Homo sapiens: one gene and its partner. The protein of the gene in region 1 binds, or shares a complex with, the protein of each later gene. Each region holds a gene or a part of one and is shown on either strand. Other genes may lie near its edges.

Region 1 (3,586 bases):
GCCCCAGTACCCAGCTAATTTTTAAATTTTTGTGGAGATGTGTTTCTTACTTTCTTGCCTAGGCTGGTCTTGAACTCCTGGTTTCAAGCAATACTCCCACCTTGGTGTGGGGATTGCAGGCTTGACCCATTGCACCTGGCCTGGAACCAACCTTTATGGCTATCAATACTCCCATCAATCAACTGTCTCAGGTATCATAATATCCCTTCTTATATGTATCAAAACTCATACTGAACAATGAGTTCTGGGTTGCAAAAGAGGATTTATTTTTTGCACCTATCTGTAAGTCTTTGTCCACGTTAAACAAAAACATACATAAGTGCAGTCCCAAAATGCACTACATAGCAGAGTAGTCAGCTCTATCGTGGTGATCAAAATAATGAACATCGGGGTAATGACTGGTTCTCCCCAGGTATACATGTTGAATAAATGTGTATGCCTTTTCTTGAACTAATAAAAAGTGAAAATGGTAGTTAAAAGTAGTATTAGGCCAGGTGCCATGGCTCACACCTATAATCCCAGCATTTTGGGAGGCCAAGGCAGGCGGATCGCCTGAGGTCAGGAGTTCGAGACCATGGTGAAAGCCTGTCTCTACTAAAAAAACAAAAACTAGCTGGGTGTGCTGGCTAACGCCTGTAATCCCAGCTACTAAGGAGGCTGAGGCAGAATCGCTTGAACCCGGGAGATGGAGGTTGCAGTAAGCCAAGACTGCGGCCATTGCACTACAGCCTGGGTGACAGATCGAGACTCTGTCTAAAAAAAATAGTATTAAAGATACTCTAAATTTGGAAAGGGAAATGAGGTTATTACAATACTAAGCATCTGACAGGTCACTTGTCATGGCTGAACAAAGCTGGGATAAAATTACAGCATTTCAAATCCCCTCTTCAAGATGGTTGGGTGTCAAGTTACTTTAAGATTTTCTTTTCAAAATTAAAATCACTACATTTCATTGTTTCAATACTCACAGGACACCTGTAAGCTCTTATTCAGAAATCAAATGACAATTTCTCAAATTTTTCTATGTATTTTCTCTGGTGTTTTAATGGTTTTTTTTCTAATTATTACTACTTCACAAGTTTCTTTCACAAACTTCTTCACAGGGTTAAAAATTTTTTTTCTTGTTATAAAGTTCTGGGTTTCAGAATTTCTTCACCACCAGACTGGTACATATATCCACATTTATCTTTATTCATTTCTATGAAGTCGTTTTTTCTATATGCTTCACCTTTGACATTCATGATCCTGTCACATTTTCAGGCCTCTCTGTCCAGTATTTTTGGCTTTTGTAGCTCTCTTTTTAGACAAAGCAGCTTCTTCAGTAATATCCTCTTCTTCTAAGTATACACTCAGTCTTACAGGGAATTCAGAACTTACTATGAAACTATCCCCCTGCATAAAACAAACAAAAAATCATGGATTAAGCAATAACTCAAATAGTTTAGTAATTACATATAGCTGAATGCCCTGGATTACTTCAGATAACCTAGAGACTACATGTAGATGTTAAAAATCCAAATTAACATTGCTTATTTTTTCATTTGACATCCTAACTAGCAATAATATGTATCAGAATGCTACTTATTAAAAATAGTACTGAAAACCCCATGTTCTTTATCAAGTCTCTAAAAAATTATTTTCCTTCTTGCATTTCCTGCAGTAAACTTATAGAGCTTTTCAAAAGTTAAATGAAGTGTAAGAGAAAAACTAAATATAATTCCTTCTGTATCAACCAACTCCTGCCTTCCCAAAATGGAATAGGAAAAAAATAAGTCACTTACTGCCAATTTGATATCACATTCGTTATCTTCAAGATGTGTTGCATCCTCATCCTCTGCTCTGTAATATTAAAATTTATCATCGAGATGACAGAATCTTCGATGACCTAATTAGTTGTATATTCCACTCTGAAATATAACTGAAACTGCAATACTAGTCAAAGGAAACACAAAATTTGAGAATTTTGTGTTCTGGAGAATTCTAGATGAACGGTGTGCCAAGCTTGGCTCAACTGTAATAATCCCAATTGTCATACTCTGTATCTTTGTTCATTATTTAAGTATAACTATATTAAAGGCAAAATATGAAGCAATTAACATAGAAATTTAATTTATAACCTATTACCAAAGTATTTCATATGATTCCACTTACGTTGACTCCTCAATAGGAGAAATGGATCCATCATCATCCAAAAATTTGTATCTACGACTGTCAAAATCTTCATTTTCTAAATCTTCACCAACATTCATTTGCTTCAATGATTCTTTCAGGTGGTGTTCATACTTCAGTTTTTCAATATAGTTAAAAAATCCTCTTGCAACAGCTTGCTATATATTAAAAACACCATAAGTATGTCGAGATTTTATTTTTAAGACCCAGCAGGTGCCTATGTTCAAAAAGGGCAATGCCCCCCCTTAGCAAAGACTCTGAATTTGCTATCTTAACTACTCCCCACTTGTGGACTTATCAAATGCTGATTATTAAAATTCACATTACAATTATGAATTTACCTAAGCTGGTAACATGGAAAAGTGAAGTACATATCTTGTCATGTCTGGGACTTACTAAAGGCATTTTAAAATGTAAAAACAGGAATAAGATTTCTAATGTTTACTATAATCACCTTAAACTTAAGAGATTAACTGAAGAGATTAACATGTATTAATCCTCCCAAATAAAATTTCAGGTTCTGGCAAGGGATCATAAATTAATTCTGAATTCATTCAACATACAACTCTCAAATATTTAAAAAAGTCTACTCCTAAGTATTAGCGTATTTTTCAGATAATTGGCTTAGAAACATCTAGGCCTTAAGAATATATCCACTGAACATAAGGCATGTGTGGTTTTAGTTTAGGTTACTGCAAAAGTAATTTCAAGTTATGTGAGCTTTTATTATCCCCACTGAGTTTTAGGGTTGTGTTTAAAGACCTGAGATGGGATAAGATCAAAGGATTTTATACAAAGAGCCTTGGAGCACTATCTTTTAAATATGGCAAAGTGTAGTTATATTAAGAGATACAAGTCAAGATTCAGTTGAAGGATAGGGTGGACTTTAGGGGTAAGTCAGTATAGAAGAGTATCAAAATTGCAGACAGTCTGTTCCCAGTATATCTGAGACAATTCTAAATTGGCCAACAAATCATTTTGGGCATCTTGAGTTATGTGTAGCCATGTATGTAAAATGCTGACTCACCTCAAACGTTAAAATTTTTCTCCAAGGTGCGTTTTTTTCATTCTCTGATTCTAAAAATGGGAAGCCAGATCCTCTGCTTCTAAATTGTTTCTTCTTATCTATTAGTGAGTATATAGGATTTCTCCTTCCTTCTGGTCTTCCCCGTGGTCTTCCTGTTGGCTGGTACCTCCTCTTTTTCTTTTTTTTATATCTCTTTTTCCTGTTCTTGAATCTTTCAAAAATAGCTTTTATAGTCAATGGTATTGGTTCAAAAGATGAGTCACTTGATGAATCACTTGCGTGAACACTTTCAGGTGTACGAACAAATTTTCGAATGGGGTTTCTTTTCTCCCCTTTAGGTGAGTAAGGGATACACTGAGTTTTAAATAAGCTGCTATCAGAAGAGTTATC
Region 2 (3,757 bases), on another chromosome or scaffold:
AAAAAAAGAAAAAGAAAGTAATAGATTAGTGGCTGCCAGTGTCCGGCAGCTGTGAGGAGGAATGGGGAAGGACTGCAAGTGGGTACAGGGTTTTGGTTTCATGGGAGAAAAAAAAGGTTCTAAATTTAGAGTGTGGTAATGGTTGGTTGCACAACTCTGTAAATGTATGAAAATACATTGAATTGTACAATTTAAGTGGGTGATGGCGTATAAAAAACGTCTTGATAAAACGAAAAAAAAAAGGATCACTCTAGTTGGAAAAAGAGAACAACTCTTTCAAGAAGTTTTGCTGAAAGAGAGTAAAACAATGAAGTATAGTCTATGGGGGAAGTTTGGGTCAAGAGATGATTTTAAGATAGAATAGGCTGGGCATGGTGGCTCACACCTGTAATCCCAGCACTTTGGGAGGCCGAGGCAGGCGGATCACGAGGTCAAGAGATTGAGACCGTCCTGGCCAACCTGGTGAAACCCCGTCTCTACCAAAATACAAAAAATTAGCCGGGCGTGGTGGTACATGCCTGTAGTCCCAGCTACTCAGGAGGCTGAGGCAGGGGAATCACTTGAACCCAGGAGGTAAGAGATTGCAGTGAGCCGAGATCGCGCTACTTCACTCCAGCCTGGCGACAGAGCAAGACTCCGTCTCAAAAAAAAAAAAAAAAGATAGAATAACAAAATTTTTACATGATGATGGGAAACATCCATAAAGAGGGGGGAAAAGGAAGAATTATTGGAATGAACATTTTAGTCCCCTTTAAAATAAGAGGTAAAAAGAAGTGTGCAAAAAAGGTCCCAATACAAACTCTCCACTCAAAAGTAGTTTTAGTAGCTTTTAGCAAAATCACTGAGATTCTGTAAAAGCTACTGTAGGTGAAGCTGTAGGCATAAACTTCTGGGAATCTATCATTTCTTCCAGCAAACTCAAATTTTATTTACCTCAGGTGCAGCCTGCCTTTTGTAGCTATCTGAATCTTCCAAGGTCTGAAAATAACTGTACATGTATTCTGCAGCTTGCTGCCATTGGTGCTTCAGCAGAGCTTCTTGGATAAAACTTAAACAAGCACTTGTTGTCTGAGCAAAATCCTTCCTCCTTTTCCCTCCAATGGCTATAAAAACGAAAAAGAAGAGAGTTTTTATCCAAGTGGCTCCAGTTCAACTATTCAAAAAACTTACTTCTGATAAGAAGTTTTAACAAGTAAACAGTAGGCATTACTTGACCCAGCCCATTCCCAGTACCAAAGCCAGCTTCACTTGAAACAAACCCTTCTACATTATATTAATTATTTTTAGCAGATAAAAACATTTCTAATTTGATGTTTTGGGGCTACTAGAGTCACCAGATCCTTTAAATCTGATTCAATCATCCTTTCATCCTTGTACCAAATAATTTGCGGAGAATCTCTCAAACAGGCCCCCAAAAGCACAGTCCCAGGTATTTAGAATGGGTAAAATGTCAGGGTCATTCTAGGCAAACATGGTCTTTATTACCTACCCATGTTCTGCAAACCCCAAGTGGGCTTTTATTTTTTAAGGACCAAATTCCTAGTAACTCAATGATATTATATACAAATGAGATTAAAACAGTTGCAAAAATTAGCATTTATATCTCTAAAGTATTGGCAATCCCAATGTTAAGAACATTTGGGCTTAGATACAGTGCTATTATATGAATGACTAGTTACATTGCTACATCTTCTTATCTTCCCACGTAACTATGAGACCCCTCTAGTCCAGCTGGGTAATTGTACCCCAGTAAGTACACAAAGACCAACAGGTACTTTACAAAGATACTTTTAAAACAATTAACTTGCAGATATTTGATTTCCTTACATACTCTTTCCACAAGTTAATCTCCTAGACAGCTGTGCCTACATAGTCAAAGCTTCACAATCAAAATCATTACACACTATCTGAAGGTGAAAACACAGGTGTTGAAAAAGTAAATAACTCTAACATCTCCTTTTGCAAGTTAGGCAATTCCCAATTCTTTGCTCATCAAAACTGCAGAACAACGTAATTTTTTACAATAAATCATTATGCAATTTTTCATCAATAATTTAGAAAAAATTCACAGACCTGATACACGGCTATAATTAAACTCCATTCACTGCCATCTACTTACTTATGTGACTAAGGTTTCTCAGAATTTATGTCAATTAAAAAAAATAGCAGAATCAATGCTAAATGTTTTCTCATTCTAGAAATACATAAAAGTCACCCACAAATACATAAAAAATTGGGGAAAAGTTTTAGATAACTTTATTAAAAAAAAAAAAAAAAGAGTCTTGCTCTGTCACCCAGGCTGGACCGCACTAGCACAATCACAGCTCACCATAGCCTAGACCTCCTGGGTTCAAGTGATCCTTCCTTTTGGCCTCCCAAAGTGCTGGGATTATGAGCATGAGCCACCACACCTGGCCAACAACACGTTTAATACACGTTATATTGATCAGCTGTGTACAACTATTAATGATAGCAATGTCTCAACCTAGAAAAAGTTTTAATTCTTAAAACTTACAGGATATAAACAAAAAAAGTATAAATATTGATACATACTTTTATTGCAAGAAGTACAACAAAGAGGAACATAAAATGTCCATCTATTAAAAGCTTGTTCATAATTTTTTTTAAAATGAATAACGCAAGGTATTAAAACCCTATGCCATTCCTGTGCTATTTGGACTCCATCACATATAAAGTAATATATAGTCATTTAAAAATACCAACATGCTGGAAATTTTATCTCTTGCAAATATTAAACATACAATAAAATTTTTTCAGATGATTCCTTAAAACTATGCAAGGTAGTACTCAATTTTTCAGAAAAAACTAGGGGATACAAAAGTGAAAAGTTTGAAGACTACTGTGCTAGACTAGTGTTCTCAGACTTTTGAATGTACATACAAATCACCTGGGGACCTGCCCTTGCTACTCAATGTGGTCCTGGCATGCAGCAGAAGTATCACCTGGAATCTCATTACAACTACAGAGTACTATGCCCAGCTCTCTCAATCAGAAGCTGCATTTTATAAGATCTACACCAAAGCTGCTCGGCATCAGTGGCAATACCTGCCAGCTAGCCTAGGAAACTGACAAAACACCTCGTCCTTAAAACATCCCTTATTTACCTAAAGGAGAGAACTGTTCTCAGGCTAAGCTCCCTTCTATCGCTCAAGCTTTCACAACTGAGATTATAAATTGACTTTAGATAACTATACCTAAATGTTTGGAAAATACTTTTGTCTTCCAACCTAGCCTAGCTACCTCAGGAAAAGTTCTCCTCTCATTTCATTCTTTAATGAGCAAAAGATAGTCTTACTTGATCCTGATGACTTTAAGAAAAAAAAATTGTCAAGGAAAACACATTTTTACATGGAATAGAGATGTACAATAAAGAACTAGTGTCATCAACCTAACTTCTAATATGCTACTCAAAGAATCTGGAAACTTATCAATCTGTCAACAAGTATTTTTTGGGCACCACTGTGTCCCAAGCACTATCGCAGGTACTCATCATACAGCTTCAATCCAGACTGGCCCTGTCTTCAAAGTTTTTATTCTAAGGGGGTTGCTGGGCATGCCCTTCAAAAAGCCAAAAGATATCTACCAGCATAAAAAATAAATAGAACAATTGTTAGGCAATTTTGTTTTCCTATTATGGTTAATTACCAGCACAATGTCAATATTAATTGCAAGTATTTTCTCATTGCAGACCAAAAGTATTTTCGGTTTAACAGGCTATCCATGACATATAAAATAT

Evidence for each region. Proteins that work in one complex are often made in the same cells at the same time.
Region 2: TAF1D (region 1) and TAF1A share a complex: the UniProt entries of both Homo sapiens proteins name them as parts of the transcription factor SL1/TIF-IB complex.

The regions. Positions count from the first base shown.
Region 1 is NC_000011.10:93,734,913-93,738,498, forward strand, and holds the end of TAF1D (TATA box-binding protein-associated factor RNA polymerase I subunit D), read right to left. Parts: coding exon 3,197-3,586; intron 2,328-3,196; coding exon 2,152-2,327; intron 1,840-2,151; coding exon 1,782-1,839; intron 1,393-1,781; coding exon 1,249-1,392; 3' UTR 655-1,248; downstream 1-654. UniProt on the Homo sapiens protein: Component of the transcription factor SL1/TIF-IB complex, which is involved in the assembly of the PIC (preinitiation complex) during RNA polymerase I-dependent transcription.
Region 2 is NC_000001.11:222,583,195-222,586,951, forward strand, and holds part of TAF1A (TATA box-binding protein-associated factor RNA polymerase I subunit A), read right to left. Parts: intron 1,104-3,757; coding exon 934-1,103; intron 1-933. UniProt on the Homo sapiens protein: Component of the transcription factor SL1/TIF-IB complex, which is involved in the assembly of the PIC (pre-initiation complex) during RNA polymerase I-dependent transcription.